Regions from separate parts of the Homo sapiens genome. Here region 1 is linked to region 2. A link means that fine-mapping ties the variant in region 2 to the expression of a gene that starts in the linked region. Tissue or cell type: skeletal muscle. Region 2 holds a variant in brackets; the other region holds the start of a gene. All regions are shown on one strand. Distances are between the middles of the regions.

Region 1 (10,111 bases), 56 kb after region 2:
GCTCCCTTGTTGTTGCATGGGATGGCAATGTCCACATAGCGCATAGGAGAATCTGTGTTACACAGAGCAATGGTAGGTAGGTTAACATAAGATGCCTCCGTGAGAGGCTGGTGGTCAGCCCTGGGGTCAGTAACCACAAGAAGCCATGGCTCCCGGAAGGCTGCCTGGATCTGGTTAGTGAAGGTTCCAGGAGTGAAGTGGCCAGCAATTGGAGTGGCTCCAGTGGCAGCAGCAAACTTCAGCACAGCCCTCTGGCCAGTATTCCTGGAGGATATAACACTGACATCAGCAGGGTTTTCAATGGCAACAATAGCACTAGCTGCCAGCAGAAGCTTCTCCCAGGTCCTCTTCAGATTTATGATATAGATGCCATTACTTTTCCTTTTACAGATGTACTGTTCCATCTGGAAGTCAAGATTGGTGCCACCTAAGTGGGTTCCTGCTGCAAGGAACTTAAGGACATCCTCCTCCTTCATTTGCAGGACATCAAGGGCTCCGGACATTGTGAAAGTTTCCCTTTAAGTTACGACGGGAATCCAGAACAACGCCGTATGGGCCCCTCTGTAGGTAGCGCGGAAAGCAAAAACAAATAGGTTTTTGTGTGGATAAAAGTTTTCACCTCATTTGATTAAATATAAGTGAGCACAATTTCTGGATAACATAGTAAAAGTACGTTTAGTTTTATAAGAAACTGCCATATTATCTTCCAAGGGGCTGTACCATTTTGTATTCCCACCAACAATGAATGAAAGTTCCTGTTGCTCTACATGGTTGCCAGCATTTGGTGTTGTCAGTGTTCTGAATTTTGGCCATTCTAATTGGTATATAGTAGTATCTCATTGTTGTTTTAATTTGTATTTCCCTCACGATATATGATGTTGAACATCTTTTCATATGCTTATTCAGATCTTTTGCTCATTTTTTAATTGAGTTGCTTATTTTCTTATTGCTGAATTTTAAGAATTCTTCAGATTCATTTTTCATTGCTTACTTAGAATAAGCCTTCTTTTCCCTCACAAGCTGCCAGTTCTACTTTCTCTTTAGTCTTATTTGTGATCCTTCTTTCTACAGAGACAAATTAAACCAGAGAAGTGGACTCTTTCCCTACAGGCAGCTGAAAGGATGTGCAAGTGCAGTTCAGAGGGGGAAATAAAAAACACGTTTTAGAATACTTCCTTGGTTAAAAGCAGTAAGTTTGGCAAAGACACATAGACTCTCAACTCTAGATTTACTGAGAATGCTAGGTAGCATATTTTTGGAGTCAAATGAAGAAGAAAAATTATAAATCCTATAGCCTACAGAATAATTATTGAATTATTTGAAGCATATGCTTTGGCCTCTGAAGCAAGGTGGAGGGGTCTGCTTTGATCAACAGATTGAGTACTTGATGGGAGTTCTTAGAAGTACAACTCTTGGAGGGTTTATTCTTCAGTCAGAGGGGAGGAGCCATTGAACGCTATTGAGCGGTGGTGGAAAATGATCAGAATTCTTCCTTCTTGGGAGGCCGAGGAAGGTGGATCACTTGAAGCCAGGAGTTCCAGAACAGCCTGGCCAACATGATGAAACCCTGTCTCTATTAAAAATGCAAAAATTAGCCGGGCGTGGTGGCATAAACCTGTAGTCCCAGCTACTCGGGAGGCTGAGGCAGGAGAATCACTTGAGCCCGGGAGGTGGAGGTTGCAGTGAGCCGAGATTGCGCCACTGCACTCCAACCTGAGTGACAGAGTGAGACTCTGGTTCAAAAAAAAAAAAAAAAATTCTTTCTTCTATATCCTATGCTGATAACACAGTAATTACCCATATGACTTGACATGTAAATGGTAGTTTTAAAGATTGGAGCCTGACTGCTCCATCTTAAACATTCTACAAGACTCTCCTTTTTTTTTTTAAATCTATCTATTTATTTATGTATTATTTATTGAGAAGGAATCTTGCTCTGTCACTCAGGCTGGAGTACAATGGAGCAATCTCGGCTCATAGCAACCTCCGCCTCCTGGGTTCAAGCGATTCTTCCGCCCCAGTCTCCCGAGTAGCTGGGATTACTGGCATTCACTGCCATGCCTGGCTAATTTTTGTATTTTTAGTAGAGACCGAGTTTTGCCATGTTGTCCAGGCTGGTATTGAACTCCTGGCCTCAGGTGATCCACCTGCCTCGGTCTCCCAAAGTGCTGGGATTACAGGCAAGAGCCACTGCGCCCGGCCTATTTATTTTTTTAGTGACCGTGTCTTGCTTTGTCATTAGGCTGGAGTGCAGTGGTTCAATCACAGCTCACTGCTGCCTCAAATTCTGGGGCTCAGGCGATCCTCACTCCTCAGTTTCCCAAGTAGCTGGGGCTATAGGCACGAGCCACCACCACCTGGCTGAGACAGAGTCTCGCTCTGTTGCCCCATATGGAGTGCAGTGGCGTGATCTCCAGCTCACTGCAACTGCCGCCAGGTTCGAGCGACTCTTGTGCCTCGGCCTCCAGGGTATCTAGGACCACAGGTGAGCGCCACCACTCCCGGCTAATTTTTGTATTTTTTGTAGAGACGGGGTTTCACCATGTTGCCCAGGCTGGTCTCCAACTCCTGAGCTCAAGTGATCCACCGGCCTCAGCCTCCCAAAGTGCTGGGATTACAGGCATGAGCCACTGTGCCAGGCCCTGGCTGATTTTTAAAATTTTCTTTCTTATTTTCTCCTCTTCTTTTCTTTCCCCTTTCTTCTTTTTTTTCTTGTTTCTTTTCTTTTCTTTCTTTTTTCTCTCTTTCTTACTTATTTTTATTTTAAAATTTTTGGATAGACGGAAGTCTCCCTATTTTGCCCAGGCTGGTCTTGAACTCCTCAGCTCAAGAGATCCGCTCACCTCGGTCTCCCAGAGTGCTGGGATTACAGGCGTAAGCCACCATGCCCCGCCCATTTTTATACGTTTAGGTTAATGCTTTCCAACAAAGCTGATGAGAGGATTACATGAGACAGTGTGAAAAATACTTAGCATTTTCTCTATTCTTAAAACCACCCCTCCTCATTTACCTCCTATGATTCATTTAATTATTTTATCTCATTTAATTCTCATACCTTCTTGCAACCTAGGGCTTAGTGGCGTAAGACCCAGGGATGATTTATCAAGTTCTCACCTCCAGGCTTTTCTTATTAGGTGTATCACTGCTGATGAAGTTAAAAATATACCATTCTTGCATATTGACTATTTTGAATTAAAAGCACTTGAAAAACAATAGATACAAAAAAATCATTCTGACCTCTTTTCTGTTTCTTAGAAGCAGATGAAATTACCATATGAGAGACATCCTCCCTATATTAGAAGGAATGCAGCACTCTTATTAAGGACGGGAGTCAAGAGTGAGAGAATCCTGTACACACCTTGCTAAAATAACTCTTAAGCCTCTCCAGATAACTTAATTGCTTTTCACAACTTGCTATTACTACTCTTACTACCGGTATTACTATTATCGTTATTCTCATTATTCTTTGTTTAATTCCGTATAGATAAGTAACTGACCATAATTGCTTCTTTGGGTCCTTCTCTCCCTTCCCTTCCCTTTTCTTCCCTTTCACTTTCCCTTCCCCTTTCCTTTCCCTTCCCTCCCTTCCTTCTTCTTCTCTAGTTCTTTTAAGGGGTGAGGGTGTCTCACTGTGTCGCCCAGTCTGGAGTGCAGTGGCGTTATCATAGCTCAGTGCAGCCTCGACCTCCTGGGCTCAATCAATCCTCCCGCGTCGGCCTCTCAAACTACTGGGAATACAGGCGTGAGCCACCAAGCCTGGCCTAGAACATAAATTTAATATCAGGTAAATCTTATCAGAGATGCATACATGTAAGGTAGAAAGAGACTACACGGTCTGCACAGAATTTTATACAAATGTATAGAGCAAAAAAGAAAAAAATTAAACTTCTCTGGATTCCATTGATTAAAAATTTAAAAAAATAAATAAAAAACTTCTTTGTCTTCGAGACGTTAAGAGGATGCACCTTCTTATAACCTTGCACCCTGCATATCCTGTGAGTGAGCCCAGAGCTACTTCCCTAGGAGCGTGCGTATTTACAGTTCCGAGGGTACGAAGGCCTCTATCTGCATTGCAGTAGAGGGACGGCCTGTTATCGGGCTTGTGAAATTGTCAAGAAGACAGCCTGGAGGGGACAGTCACCGCCCATGTCGGTAACCTTCCACTAGTCTCTGGGGTTAACAGCGTCACAGACAGGGACTTCTCCCTTGGAGCTTACATTCGAATATATTAATAACTCCAGAACGTGGTCAGTGGTCCTGGAGGACGACCGCTTCTGGTAGGGCGGCCAGGAAAAGCCTCTGTGAAGAGGCGATCTTTGAGCTGAATTTTGGAGCTTTAATAAATACTTAAAGAGCGAACGGAACGAGCGATGCCTGACGTTCAACCCAGCGGTTGCCAAGGAGCTAAAGAGCGTCTCACTTTGGCTTCCGGATTGTTATGAACAGGAGGAAGGAGAAAAAAAAACCAGAATTGTTCGAGAATTGTGCTTTCGCGGCTCTCAGGCTGAAAACGGGGTTTCCACATTAGTTCCCATCGCCAGGGGCTGAAACGAAGCCCGGGATCCAGACATTAGGCGCCTGGGGCGGGAGCCTGCAGCGGGAGCTTGCGGCGGGAGCCGGGCGAGGCAGCGGCGGGGCGGGGCCATGATGGGGCGGGGCTACGGAAGCCGAGCGGGCTCGAGGCGTTCGGCTGAGGAAGGGAGCGCACGCCGGCGGCGCGGAGGCCGGCTCTGCGCTTCGGGCCGCCCCCTCCCCCCACCCCGCTCACACCCGGCACTTACTTCGGCTGTCTCCGCTGCCCTCCAGCGGAGACGCAGCTCCTCAGGCGCCCGGCGGTATTTGTTGGGTCGGCGGCGTCAGGGATTCGCAGTGGCCTGTGGTCGGCGTCGTCCGGCCACTGGTGCGCCCCCGCGGCAGGCAGAGCTCACGCTCCTGTCCCCCGGCTGGTCCGGGGTCTGGGCGCCGCGTCGACGGCGGCTCCGCAGGACGCGCAGACCGGGCCGCAGCCCATTCCCCGAGCGGACTGCATTATGAGGCACCTGCCTTACTTCTGCCGGGGTCAAGTGGTGCGGGGCTTCGGCCGCGGCTCCAAGCAGCTGGGCATCCCCACAGGTGAGAGCAGGGCGGCCAGAGTCCCCCGGGCCGGGTCACGTGGGGAGCGGGGAGAGACGGCAGCCGGGGACTTGGGACCGGGGCGTGGGGCCTCCGGACCGCGGGCAGAGAGCACACCCTTCCTCCTCCCGCATCCCCTTGTCTGTGGCGGAGGACCGTTGGCTCGGTTGAGGGAGCTTGTCCCTGCTTCTGGCTCCGAGCTCCGCGGGGACGGGGTTGAGGGGTGGTGAGGGCCGGAAGCCCGAGATGAATCGCAGGATTCCCCGTTCACGCCTCCTTGGCCAGCCAAGGTACAGTTGGTCAAGCATTGCGCTTGTCTTGCCCATTAGAGACGTAACGTGGGCCAGAACGGCTGAACTCGCAAGCCGGGTCTAAGGTGGTTTTGTTTTTAATTTGTAATTATGTAATGTCCAAATGATAACATAGGTAGTTGAATGAGAGTCAGCTAACCTTCTTGGTCTGTCTACATTAATTTCAATAATCGAGACCTGACTGTAATTCATCCTTAGAAATACATGCCAGAGCTGCGTCTTGACTTGTTAAGTCAGCCTTGAGCTTGTGTATTTGAAAAATAAGAAGCTTTGGCCGGGCGTGGTGGCTCACGCCTGTAATCCCAGCACTTTGGGAGGCCGAGGCGGGCGGATCATCTGAGCTCAGGAGTTCGAGATCAGCCTGGCCAACATGGTAAAACCCCGTCTCTGCTAAAAATACAAAAATTAGCTGGGCATGGTGGCGCGTGCCTGTCATCCCAGCTACTCGGGAACCTGAGGCAGGAGAATCGCTTGAACCCAGGAGACGGAGGCTGCAGTGAGGCGAGATCGTGCCACTGCCCTCCAGCCTGGGCGACAGAGTGAGACACCGTCTCAAAAAAAAAAAAAAAAGAAAGAAACTTTTCAGGTGATTCAGTACCTGGTTAGGAAAGAACAGATCTGAAAAAATCCATCTACTCTGGTACTTGTTTTTTGCATCCTACTCAAAGAGTATGGATTTTTTTGGAGAGCTTTATATACTTACCTGGTACTTTATTCATAACCTATTCACATGAATAGGAGAGGGAAATCTGAGCCGGAAAATGGAAGGATGGGATTGATACTTACAGGCAAAGTTGTAGGAGTCTTGTGAATGTAATGATTTACATTAGCCTTGCATGTGATTTTTACAAATGTTTGTTTCTTATTATTATTTTGAGACAGAATCTGGCTCTGCCACTCAGGCTGGAGTGCAGTGGTAGTGCGATCATAGCTTACTGCAGCCTCCATCTGCTGGGCTCAACTGACCCTCCTGCCTCAGCCTCTCTGGTAGCTTAGACTATAGGTGCAGGCCACCATCCCCAGCTAATTTTTTAATAGAGGTAAGATCTCACTATGTTACCCGGGCCGGTCTCAAACCCCAGAGCTCAACATGAGCCTCCTGCCTTGGCCTCTCAAAGTCCTAGAATTACAGACATGAGCCACTGCACTCGGCTACAGGCATTTAATACGAAATTTGTAAGACTCAAAATATTTTCTTCTGTTGTTTAGCTAATTTTCCTGAGCAAGTGGTAGATAATCTTCCAGCTGATATATCCACTGGTATTTACTATGGTTGGGCCAGTGTTGGAAGTGGAGATGTCCATAAGATGGTGGTGAGCATAGGATGGAACCCATATTACAAGAATACGAAGAAGTCTATGGTAAGCATTATATTTTGCTCTGTAACCGAAAATGGTATGATGACTTAGAATAATATATTACAGTATTCGTTACAGAAATAGCTTATCAGTGGTAATCACAACGTAGTTCAAATACTGGAATTTTGGGCAATCTCTGTCTTTTAATTGGAGAGTTTAATTCATTTACATTTAAAGTAATTTCTGATAAGGAGGGACATCTACTGTTTTGCTATTTGTTTTTTATATGCCTTATAACTTTTATGTCCCTCATTTCCTCTATTACTGCCTTTTGTGGTAGTGTGCTTTTTGTTTTGTTTTGTTTTGTAGTGACATTTTAATTCCTTTCTCATTGCTTTCTGTGTATTTCTATAGATACTGTCTTTGTGGTTACCATGGGGTTTATATTTAACATCCTGAAATTCTAAAAGTTTAATTTGAGTTTATACCAACTTAATTTCAATAGCATACAGAACTCAGAAATTGCATCTTTTTTTTTTTTTTTAAAGATGGGGTCTCACTATGTTGCCCAGACTGAAGTGCAGTAGCTGTTCACAGGCCAGGTTGTAGCACACTGTAGCTTCAAACTCATGGGCTCAAGTAATCCTCCTCCAGCCTCCAGAGAGCTGGGACTATAGGTACATGCCACTGCCTGCATCTGGCTCAGATTACATCCTTATACATTGTGGTACCCAATAACAAAGATTAATAATTGGTTTTTTTATGCATTTATTTTTTAAATTATGTAGAAAATAAAGAGTGGAGTTACAAACCAAAATTATAATACTGACTTTGATAATTGCTGTCTGTGAAAGACTCACTTGACCAAAGATAAAAATGATTTAAAAGCCTGTTTCATAAAATTGAGCTTGCCACAATTAATGCACTTCATTCACCATTTACTTCATGCATCAATTGCGCTTGGTCACCCTCTTAAGATAAAACAGTTTACTACATGGATGGTGGATGGAGGATGGTGCTTATTGATACAGTCCCACATTGGTGCTTTTCTCTTTCCTTTTTAAACCACCTGAGGGTATACTTTTCTGCCCTACTCTTTACAGGACCCCACAACTTCAGTGTTTTATCTGTTAGATTTGGCTGAATCTTTTGTCAGCTCAAATGTGTGGCAAAAACAAATTACAGTGAAGCTAAATTTTGTTCTGTGTGGAGTTAATAGAAGTGAAGTGTGTCACTGCTGGAAAACTACAGAGCTAAATGCTGGCGTAAGCAATAGTAATGACGCAGAAGTACTTAACATTTTGCTCAGTATTTCAGTTATTTTTCAGTATTAATGATTTGAAAATTATTTTTTGGAGACAAGGAAAACAATCGAAAGATCACAAAATACCATTCTGTTGAATGAGGAAGGAAAAGAAGGGGAGGGGACAATAGCCCATAACTAATTTGTCTTTAGCTACTTAGATAACAAAAATGTTATTATACAGCCAGTTAAGGAATGCCTTTTGAGTGTTAGGAAAAATTGAATTTGAAACATAGGCATATCTTACCAGTGGAAAATTGAACTTTTGCTTGCCTTTGCCAGTAACACACATCTGTGAAGTGCCTGTGCCAGACCTTTGTCCTTTAAAAAAAAAAAAAGCGTTATCTTACTGACCTTAAATAAGTTCTTAGTAACACATCTAGATCCACTTCCTTTGTTGGAACTGTGTATTGTTGTATTACAAATTTCTTTCATTGTGTGTGTGTGTGTGGTTTTTTTTTTTTTTTTCTCAATGGTGTGTTGAAGAACAGAGTTTTGTTTTGTTTTGTATTTTCAGATAGGGTCTTGCTCTGTCACCCAGGCTGCAGTGCAGTGGTGCAATCTCAGCTCACTGCAGCCTCAACTTTCTGGGCTGAAGTGATCCTCCCATCACAGCCTCCCGAGTAGCTAGGACCACAGGCATGTGCCACCATGCTTGGCTATTTTTAAATTTTTTTATAGAGATGAGATTTCAGCATGTTACACAGACTGGTCTCAAACTTTTGGGCTCAAGCAGTCCTCCTGCCTCAGCCTCCCAAAGTGCCAGGATTACAGGCATGAGCATGGCACCCAGCCCAGAGGTTCTTAATTTTAATACAATCCAGTTCAATATTTTTTTTATAGTTAGTGCTTTATATAATCTGTTTCAGAAATCTTTGACTACTCCAAAGTCATGAAGATACTTGTCTGTGGTTTTTTTCTAAAAGTTTAATTGACTGACATATCTTCAAATTGACTTTTTTAGTATGGTATCTGATAGGGATTTAAATTAATATTTTTTTCCATATGGATGTAGAATTGACCCAGCCTATTCATTGAAAATACCATGCTTTCACAACAGTGCTGTAGTGTCACCTGGGACATAAATCAAGTGACCTTATATGTGTGTGAGTCCAAAAATTCACATACATACTTGGTTTGCTTGTCTTATCATAGGTCTTGATACCTAGTTGTATAAGCCCTCTAGTTTTGTTCTCAAGATTTTCATGAATAATTTTGGTTTTTCCATATAAATTTTAGAATCACTTGTCAGTTTCTCCTATTTTAAAAAACCTGCTAGGATTTTGATTGGGGCAGCATTGAATTCGTAGATTACTTTGGGAAGTTTGCCATTTCTCTCAATAATGTCTTGTAATTGTCAGTGTCAGGGTCTTACATATTTTTTAAAATTATTTTTAAATTTTTTTTTGAGATGGAGTCTTCGCTCTGTCGCCAAGGCTAGAGTGCTGGAGTGCAGTGGTGTGATCTTGGCTCACTGCAACCTCCGCCTCCTGGGTTTGAGCAATTCTCCTGCCTCAGCCTCCTGAGTAGCTGGGACTATAGGCATGCGCCACCATGCCCAGCTAATTTTTGTGTTTTTAGTAGAGTACCGGGTTCCACCATGTTGGCCAAGCTGGTCTTGAACTCTTGACCTCAAGTGATCCTCCTGGCTCCGCCTCCCAAAGTGCTGGGATTACAGGCATGAACTACTGCACCCAACCAGTCTTACATATCTTAGTTTCTTTTTTATTATTCAAATGTTTACTGAAAAGAAAGAATATATTGGTTCATAGCCCCAAAGTCATGGGGCACTTTATGTATCTTCTAACTCAAGCCGCCCCCCACCCATTACAGACGAGAAAACTGAGCCCCGCGGAAGCTAGTTATACAGTTAACCAAGTGTGGGAACCCAGACTTTTGACTCTAAGTCAGTGCTCTTAACCTCTTAACCACAGTACTGCCCAGATGATTTAGCTGAACTAGATTCTGAGGCACTTTCTACGTCATGCGGCATTTTGCTTTAATGTGCTGTGTACCCTTTTGCCACTTTACTCCCTGATCAGGAAGCTGCATTGGCTCTCCTGCCCCTTCAGTCCTCAGCTCTGCCA
Region 2 (10,111 bases):
GAGGCTGAGGCAGGAGAGTCGCTTGAACCCGGGAGGCGGAGGTTGCAGTGAGCTGAGATCATGCCACTGCACTCCAGCCTGGCGACAGAGTGAGACTCTGTCTAACAAAAAAAAAAAAAAAAAAAAAAGAAAAGAAAAGAGGTTTAATTGACTCACAGTTTTGCCTGGCTGGGGGGGCCTCAGGAAACTTTTAATCATGACAGCAGGGGAAGAGGCACATCTTACACGGCGGCAGATGAGAGAGAGCAAGCAAGAGCAGGGAAAACAGCCTTATAAGACCATCAGATCTCCTGAGAACTCACTCACTATCACAAAAACAACACGGGGGAAACTGCCCCCACGATCCAATCACCTCCACCAAGCCCCTCCCTCACCACGTGGGGATTATGGGGATTACAATTCAAGATGAGATTTGGGTGGGGTTTGGGTGGGAACACAGCCAAACCATATCACATCCCCTCCCAAGAAGCCCTTTTCCAGCTGACCACAAAGAAACTCTGTCCTGATCAGTTGCCTGATTGGGCCACCTGCTCATCCCACTCCCTGATACTGGTTCTTTTTTTTTTTTTTTTTTTTTTTTTTTTCTTTTCTGAGACAGAGTTTCGCTCTTGTTGCCCAGGCTGGAGTACAATGGTGGTGCAATCTCAGCTCACTGCAACCTCCGCCTCCCGGGTTCAAGCGATTCTTCTGCCTCAGCCTCCCAAGTAGCTGGGATTACAGGCATGCACCAACCATGCCCAGCTAATTTTGTATTTTTAGACGAGTTTTCACCATGTTGGTCAGGCTGGTCTCAAACTCCTGACCTCAGGTGATCCTCCCACCTTGGCCTCTCAGAGTGCTGGGATTACAGGCATGAGCCACCGCACTCAGCCGATACTGGTTCTTTTTAACATTGTTTACTACTACCAAAAAAAGAAAAACCCTTTTCTGCCTGACCTTTCAAAAGCTTGCAGATCTTATGGTTGAAGCATTCTATTAGAATGCCGTCCCTCCCCTATTGCGACATTCTCTTTTTCTATTGCAATAATCCTTCTAAATAAAGTCTCTCCTTACCTAGATCTGGATTTGGTTTTTATTTGACAGTTCTCATTGCTGTGATCCAGCTCAAGACTGGAACTCACCTAGGGACCTCCACCAGCCCCACCCAGGTAAAGGTGCCATGTTCAGGACTTGAGGACTCTTGGGTGAGTTCAAGTCTTGAACCAGTGCTCTGGCCATCTTGTCTGTTGAAGAACAGTAAGAGGTTACTTTGATTGTTTCAGGCAAAGAGATGCTTTGGCCCTCCTGTGAGACTTCTGTGTTTCCTCAGCTCCTCGACCTGGGGATTGTTCAAGGGAATTAATCAAGTGGGAGTTTTTCTTGGCTCCTTTAAAGACTTTTCTTTGGGCTGACTATCCACTAATGCCATGGGTAACTCTCACTCTATCAGATGCCCTCCTCTTCCCCCACTGAGTACCTGCTATTATGGCACTAATTCAGTTTAATAGCCTCAAAAATGGCACAATTTACTAAAGGTAACCTAGAACCTCAAAGGCCTCTTTGGGAAACATGAGATCTCCTTAAACCAGCTCATCTAAGACTTCTCCCTTCCCATCATCCTCATCCCTCCTTTTTACCACTTTAAACCTTCTCTTTTGTTGCCTTGAATGATTTAATCTGTCCACCTCCTTCACCCATCTACCCATTCCTACACACCTTTTCCTACCCACTCCAGCTCCTCAACTCATGGTCACTCAAGATTAGGCCTCCCTTCTGTTCTGACCACCTTCTCTTCACAGCACTGGTGAAGCAGGGATCTCCTGTGCTAAACAGGAGATGGCTGAACAGATGACACCCAATACTGGGCAGATGAGATTGGCTACAGTTTTTTCAGTTACATACTCACAGCCTAAGGGGTGAGGAGGTTATTGCATGCCAGGCAGAGCCACATGGGAATTGCATTTGAAAGCAGACTGAAGCAGCAGGGGCTGTGTGAGGCAGGCTTTGTAGTAATGGCACAAGAGTGAGGTAACCTTTTATTCCACGGGAGGATGTAATTGGCTTGTTCAAATAGTTCTGTGGGCTGGCAGGTAGGTAAAGCTCCTTAGATTGAAGATTAAGTAGGGTACAGCTGGTCTGGCTGAAGGGGAAACTAGCTGGGTAGGGAGCCCTTCCCACTTCGGGGGTGATATGGTTTCGATCAGTGTCCCTGCCCAAATCTCATATCGAATTGTAGTCCCCAGTTGTGGAAGTGGGGCCTGATGGAGTGTGATTGAATCCTGGAGGCGGTTTCTAATGGTTTAGCACCATCCCTTTGGTGCTGTCTTGTCATGGAGTTCTCATGAGATCTGGTTGTTTAAAAGTATGTGGCACCTCCTCCCTGCCTCTCCTCCCCCTGCTCCAGCCGTGTAAGATGTACCTGCTTCCCCTTCAACTTGCATCATGATTGTAAGTTTCCTGAGGCCTCCCAAGCCATGCTTTCTGTGCAGCGTACAGAACTGTGAGCCAATTAAACCTCTTTTCTTTATAAATTACCCAGTCTCAGGTAGTTCTTTATAGCGATACAAGAATGGTCTAATATAAGTACCTAGATCATTTCTAAGTAAGATAGACTAGTGGAGCATAATTTAAAGCTTATGTAAATTTTTTTTAGTACAGAGAGGCTAAATATATTTTGGTCTGCTAATGATGTGTTCATTCTTGCCACACTGAAAAGTTGTACAGGCCAGGTGCAGTGGTTCACACCTGTAATCCCAGCACTTTGGGAGGCCAAGGTGGGTGGATCACCTGAGGTCAGGAGTTTGAGATCAACCTGACCAACATGGTGAAACCCCATCTGTACTAAAAATACAAAAATTAGCTGGATGTGGTGGCAGGGGCCTGTAATCCCAGTTACTCGGGAGGCTGAGGCAGGAGAATCACTTGAAGCCAGGAGGTGGAGGTTGCAGTAAGCCGAGATCACACCATTGCACTCCAGCCTGGGCGACAGAGAGAGACTCCATCTCAAAACAACAACAACAACAACAAAAAAAAAAAAAAAAAAGAAAGAAAGAAAAGAAAAGAAAAGTTGTACTATAAGGAAGTGTATGGCTATAAAAAAGTCACAAGATATATAACCTTAAGCTTGACTAGTCTGCTACAATATGCTGGTATATGACAGACAGCTAATTATCTACTTCATAGTTTTCTCTGTAGGTATATTACTTTGCTAGGTCTGTCAACAAAGTACCATAGACTGGTACTTTAAACAACAGAATTTTGTTTTCTCACAATTCTGGAGGCTGGAAGTCCAAAATTGAGTGTCAGCAGAGTTGGGCTTTTTCTGAGGCCTCTCTCCTTGGCTTGTAGATGCCAAGATTAATATTTCTTTGGCCTTTTATATTAAAACTTTTAATTAACATTTATCTTTTTAATGGTAGGCATTCCTCATTTTAAGATACCTGACCCTTAAACAACTGATTTTTGCCACCACCTTTCAACAGATGCTTCAGCTGGTTTTGTGGGAACAACACCAACCAGAGTCCCCAGGAGACCGTTTCTTAGTCCCTGACTCACCCCATGTAGGAGGCTTAGGATTGCATCTGAATTGCTCAGTGGTGAATAATATTCTTTTATCATTAACAAAAGGGAGGTCAACAGTGTTGATCTTTGCCAGAGCCTTGTTTTTCTGAAAAATAGCACTGGCTAAAGAGCTCTCCTCATCCTTTTATGATAGCCACCCATCCTCTTCTTGCAATAATCCTTTTGAATAAAGTCTCCCCTTGCCTAAATCCAGATTTATTTTGACAAATGCTACAAAATTAGTTTTGAATTGTTTTAGAAATTTAATCAAATTACATTGAAAAGAACATGAGGAAGACATAAAAGAGTAAGGTACTACTTTCAAAGCATGGAGAAAGCAAATTCAATCATAAATGTACTGTCCAGGAAAAAAAGAAAGTGTGGCTCCTAAGCATGCAAATTCCAGGTAGAGTAAAGCCTGAAATATGTTTCTAAAACCCATACATGTAAGTTCTTTAATGTTTTTAAAAAGAAACAGGTTGATCCCTTTTAAGAGCAGGCAGCATTTCTCAGAATGGCAACAAAGCTAAAATCACACACAAAATAGTTTGATATAGTTAATACATTAAAGTGTTAAATGTATGCATAACAAAATATATCATAAACAAAGTTAAAAGTCAACAAACTAGAAAATATATGCAATAGTATGTAAGCAAAAATTAATTTTTCAAATAAAGGGGTGTTTACGTAAAAATATGCACCAGGTGAAAAATGGGCAAAGGGCATGATAAGATACTTCACTAAAGAAGAAATCCACATAAAAAGATGCTCAATTTCAATAGGAATTGAAGAAAAGCAAATTAAAACTACAAATCACTTTTTACCTATCAGATTGGCAAAGTTGAAAAAGATTGATAAACATAATATAGATGAAGGTGTAGGAATACAGACTCCTGTGCTGCTCTCTGTTGTAGAGATTTCTACAAACTTTCTAGAAGGCATTTGGACAACATGGATACTTATGGACAACTATTCATCTAGGAATTTATCCTATGTAGGAAATTTTACAAATACACAAAGATTTCAGAATCGAAACACTGTAAACAATGTAAGGGTTGTTAAAAAATAATTTTCAGAGAAAGATAAAATCATGACTCATACAAATATAAAAGTGCACATCTGTTAAGGAATTTACGCATATGCTATAAGGGAATCAGATGTACGTTATAAACATTTCAAAGGAAAAGTCAAAAAGCACAGATTTATCTGGAGTAAAGGAATGTTAAGATGAATTGCAAATGGAAACAAAACTGGTATTTTCATAGGGTGGG[G/A]ATGGCGGGAACCAATTAAATTATTGCCAGACAGGACAGAATTTACACACCATCAGTTACATATAATTTATAAAAAGAGGCGAATAGGGCCGGGCGCAGTGGCTCACACCTGTAATCCCAGCACTTTGGGAGGCTGAGGCTGGTGGATCACTTGAGGTCAGGAGTTTGAGACCAGCCTGGCCAAAACGGCGAAAACCTGTCTCTACAAAAAATACAAAAAATTAGCTGGGCGTCTGTAATTCTAGCTACTTGGGAGGCTGAGGCATGAGAATCACTTGAGCCCAGGAGGCAGAGGTTGCAGTGAGCCGAGATCACACCATTGCACTCCAGCCTGGGTGACAGGGTGAGACTCTGTCTCAAAAACAAAACAAAACAAACAAAAACGAAAAGGTTTATTTTGTTTGCATATGTAAGCTTCACAGAAAAAAAGTGAAAATCCCAAAGAGGTGCTTAGACCCAGGAGCTTATACAGCATTTTAACAGAGGATGATAAAGTGTGGGAAGCTACTAGACAAGGGAAATGGGGAGAGGCTGCGCTTCTCTGGTGTGGGTAAATTGTGGGAAGGTAACTGGGAAAGGCATGGTAATTAAGGCTTGTTTAGTGAGGTGTGTTATGCAGATGAATTGTTCACCTTATTCTGGTATGGGAGAGGGCATCACCTTTGCAAAGGGAAATTAGGCAAACGTTTGTAGGTAGAAAGAGAGAGGGCAAAGAGTTTTGCTTGTGTCTGCTGTTTCTCAGTTGCCTTTAGCTCAAAATAATCCTTATGCCAATATGGCATGTTTTGAGGTGGCACATTCTTTTTTACTTTTACTATTATCATTTTATTTGCTTGTTTTTTTTTTTGTTGTTTTTTATAGAGACAGGGTCTTGTTTGTTGTTGCCCAGGCTGGAGTGTGGTAGTGTGATCATACCTCACTGTCATCTTGAACCAAGTAGCTAGGACTACAGGTACACACTACCCCGCCCCGCTAATTTATTTTATTTTGTTTTTGGTAGAGACAGGGTCTTGCTTTATTGCCCAGGCTGGTCTCAAACTCCTGGCCTCAAGGGATCTTCTCACTTCAGCCTCCCAAAATGCTGGGATTATAGGCCCTGCCACCATGCCCAGCCTGGGGTGGCATATTCTGATCCCTTTCCCATTGTTTCAGAAAGATGTTTCCATTTTGGAAAAACATAAAATAAATGAACAAATAATAGTAAATTTAGCATTTCTGTCCAAAAGAAAATGACATGTACAGTGAGCAGATGCCCATCAGGGTGTTTACCAGCAAAAACAAGTTAAAAGAAGTACCTGTCTGAATGGATCAACAAATTGCAGCATATCATATTAAAATAATGGAATGACATTTAAGAAAGCAAAATTGATTCACACTTCAACATGGATGAATCTCCAGACCTTATGTGGAGATAAAGATGCCAAACACGAAAGAGTACAGACCGTTTGATTCATGTTTATGTATCTGAAATTCTGGAAGAGGCAAATCTAATCTATAGTGACAGAAAGGAGAGCAGTTGTTGCTGGGGCTGAGTGTGGGGAGAGGAGGGCATTTGCTTTTTGGGGTGATAGAAATGTTCTTTATCTTGATTGTGGTAATAATTGCCTGGGTTAGTAGGTTGGTCAGAAGTCATGGAACTATACACCTAAACAGCTATATTTTATTAAACCATGCCTCAATAAGATTTTTTTGCTGCTGTTGTTGTTTTGAGGTGGGGTCGTACTCTGCAACCCAGGCTGGAGTGCAGTGGCATGATCACAGCTCACTGTAGCCTCAGTCTTCTGGGCTCAAGCCATCCTCCCACCTCAGCCTCCCAAGTACCTGGGACTACAGGTACGTGCCACCACACCTGGCTAATTTTTGTATTTTTTGTAGAGATAGGGTTTCACCATGTTGCCCAGGCTGGTCTCAAACTCCTGGGCTTAAGTAATCCGCCTGCCTCGGGCTCCCAGAGTGCTTGGATTACAGGCGCGAGCCACCGCGCCTGGCTGTGTGTATATATATATATAAAGTGTCTGTTAGTAAAGACTAGAGGGGTAAACAGAAAGCAGACAGCATGTGTTGAGCAAAATCTGGACTCGCTGAGTTTGCAGTGATGATAAACTTTCAGAGTAGAGGCTCTCCAGGCTTCTCAAAGTATTCCTGGACTCAGTGATTCCTATCTGGAAGCCATCTGGACAAAGACGGCTGGCACAGCCATGCCACTAAATGCACTCTTTTGAGGGTAAGAGTGCATAGAAGTTGTGAGGCATTTTCAGTTTCAGGAATCCAGCACAGCAAAGGAAGATGACAGGGTCAGGGCGTACTGGACACAGGGATTGTGGACTGACATGCTAAAGAAGACGGATGAGCCAGGGGGCTCACAGAGTTTTTTTAAAGCTGAGCACCAAAATGCCTATGCTAAATGAACAAGAATGTTCTAGATATAAAAATTATTTAATAAACATCCTCCATACTGACTTGTAAATATTGCGTGAAGTGTGGCAGAGGCCCCCTCTGGTGGTAGTGTGCAAAATCACATGTATAACTATAAAAAAGTTAAGAAATAGGGTGAAAATCAGTCCTAGTGTTTACATACATTAGATGTTAGAGGTATATACTAAAGAGGCAGTTTAGGCTGGGCACAGTGGCTCATGCCTGTAATCCCAGCACTTTGGGAGGCTGAGGCAGCCCGATCGCTTAAGCCCAGGAGTTTAAGACCAGCCTGGGCAACATGGTGAAACCTCTCTCTACAAAAAAATAAAAATAAAAATTAGCTGGGGCGTGGTGGTGCACACCTATGGTCCCAGCTATTAAGGAGGCTAAAGTGGAAGGATTGCCTGAGCCCGGGAGGTTGAGGCTGCAGTGAGTGGTGATCAAGCCACTGCACTCCAGCCTGGGTGAGAGTGAGATCTGTCTCCAAAAAAGAAAAAGAAGAAAAAGAAAAAAAGAAAAGGAAGAAGCAATTCAGCAATATCCACATACCATCCATATCTGTTCTTTTTTTTTTTTTTTTTTTTTTTTTTTTTGACACAGGGTTTCACTCTGCCCAGGATGTAGTGCAGTGGCACGCTCCCAGCTCACTGCAGCCTCAATCTCCTGGGCTCAGACAATCCTCCTACCTCAGCCTCCCAAGTAGCTGGGATTACAGGTGGACGCTACCATGCCCAGTTAATTTTTGTATTTTTTGTAGAGATGAGGTATCACCATGTTGGCCACGTTGGCCTCAAACTCCTGGACTCGAGTGATCTGCCCGTCTCAGCCTCCCAAAGTGCTGGGATTACAGGCATGAGCCACTGTGCCCAGCCTAAACTGCCTCTTTAGTATGTACCTCTAACATCTAATGTATGTAAACACCAAGCCACTATGCTTGGCCCATATATGTTCTTTACTTTGCTTCTTCTCACTTAACACGTTTGGAAAATCATTCCATATTAGTTTATATAAAGCCTCTTTGTTCTTTTCAGTGTCTATCCAGTACGGGGCTATGCCATGATATTCAAATAGTTCCCTAATGGCCATTCCAGTTGTTTCCAGTTTTTTGCTATTATAAACAATGCTACAGTGAATGTCTTCACACATATATAAAACATATGTGTAGTATTAATTGCCGTAAGTGGTATTGCTTGGTCAAAATGTATGTGCATTTAAAAAGTTGATAGGTCTCACCCTCTGTGTGGGGGAAGATGATTGGCAATAGATACCATCAGACACAGGCAAAAGAAACAAGTTCCTTAGACCTTGATAAAGGATAGGAGAATTTAAACTCTAAGAAGATTGCATGGAGCGGGAGTTTTGGCAGCCGTCTTTTCCACAAGGGCAAACTTCCCTGGGTGCTGTGTGCTGGCTCCCATCAGCTTCTGCAAAAACTCTCCTTGTCTTACACCCTCTATATGTTCTGGAGACCCTGGCTATGTTCCTGACCAGAGAAGGGCACTGGAGTCACTCCAGTGCATTCCTGCATAATCTCTGCAAGGGAGACTTGAAGGTCAGTTTCCCAGGGTAAATTTTCTAGATAGATGATCCCCTAGGAACTCCCAGGCCTTAAGCTTCCTGATGACTCTTCATGTCTTCCACAGAGAAATTGTTCCAATTTACATTCTCACCAGCAATGTGTGACTTCCTGTTTCCCCCACACACTCACCAACAGAGCAAATTATCACAGGTTTTAAAAATAATATTTATTGATTTATTTAGGAAATGGGGTCTTGCTCTGTTGCCCAGGCTGGAGTCCAGTGGTGTAATTGACCACAGCTCACTGCAGCTTCAAACTTCTGGGCTTAAGAGATCCTCCCTCCTCAGCCTCTTGAGTAGCTGGAACAGGCACACACCACCATGTCTGGCTAATTTTCGTATTTTCTATTTTTTATAGAGACAGGAGTCTCACCATGTTGTCCAGGCTGGTCCCGAACTCCTGACCTCAAGCATTCCTTCCACCTTGGCCTCCCAGATTGCTGGGATTACAGGTGTGAGCCACCCCACCTAGCCACAGTTTTTATCTTTGCCAATTCTAATAAGTAAAAACTGAGGGAGGCCAAGGCGGGAGGATCGCTTGAGCTCGGGAGTTCGAGACCAGCCTGGCCAACATGTTGAAACCCCATCTCTACCAAAAAAGAAATACAAAAATTAGCTGGGCTTGGTGGTACATGACTGTAATCCCAGCTACTCGGGAGGCTGAGGGACAAGAATCGCTTGAGCCCAAGAGGTGGAGTTTGCAGTGAGCCGAGACTGAGCCACTGCACTCCAGCCTGGGTGAAAGAGTGAGACTGTCAAAAAAATAAATAAATAAATAAGGAAAGGAAAACCTGAAACAAAGAGTTTAAACTTTACATTGCTCTCATGTGTAAGGTACCACATCTTTTCATACAGTGATAATGAGAGATACATGTGTCTATATTCCTAGTAAAGCCAACCCTTCCACTGGGGCACCTGATCCTCATTCCAGGTATAACATCCTCTGATGTTATACTTGAGAACATCATCCGAGCAATTCTTTCTTCTGCAACTTCAACTTTTTTTCTCTCCACAGAATCGTTCCTATCAGCATGCAAAAATGTTATTTCTCCTTTTGACAACCCTTTCTTGAACGCCTTCCTCCTTAGCTACTGCCCTAATTCTCTACTTATAGCAGAGCTTTCCTTTTCTGGAAAGGGCCAGATAGTAAATATTTGAAGTATGGTGGGCTATTTATTCTCTCACAACCTCTTACCTGTGTCCCTCTAGTGTGACAGCAGCCACAGACAGCACGTAAATGAACAGGTGTGATCATAGTTTGCTGCAGTTTACTGACTCCTGCTTCATAGAAAACTGACCTTCATTCC

Evidence for each region. PIP is the estimated chance that this variant, and not a neighbour inherited with it, causes the effect.
Region 1: RFK starts here. The variant in region 2 is fine-mapped to the expression of RFK in skeletal muscle (GTEx, PIP 0.95).

What each region holds. Positions count from the first base shown.
Region 1 is chr9:76,389,091-76,399,201 of GRCh38, reverse strand. RFK (riboflavin kinase) reads left to right here and starts at 4,776. Exons shown (of 4, transcript NM_018339.6): 1 at 4,776-5,112; 2 at 6,633-6,784. The coding sequence starts at 5,031. It also overlaps a transcript of GCNT1 not described here and the pseudogene RPSAP9. RefSeq lists enhancers at 4,118-4,357, 4,535-4,829, 4,692-5,505 and silencers at 4,638-4,697, 4,718-4,797, 4,838-5,327, 9,855-10,111.
Region 2 is chr9:76,444,860-76,454,970 of GRCh38, reverse strand. It overlaps a transcript of GCNT1 not described here. Among named protein-coding and RNA genes, the nearest start is that of GCNT1, 9.3 kb to the left of the region's middle. The variant G/A (reference allele first, on the strand shown) is at 4,812.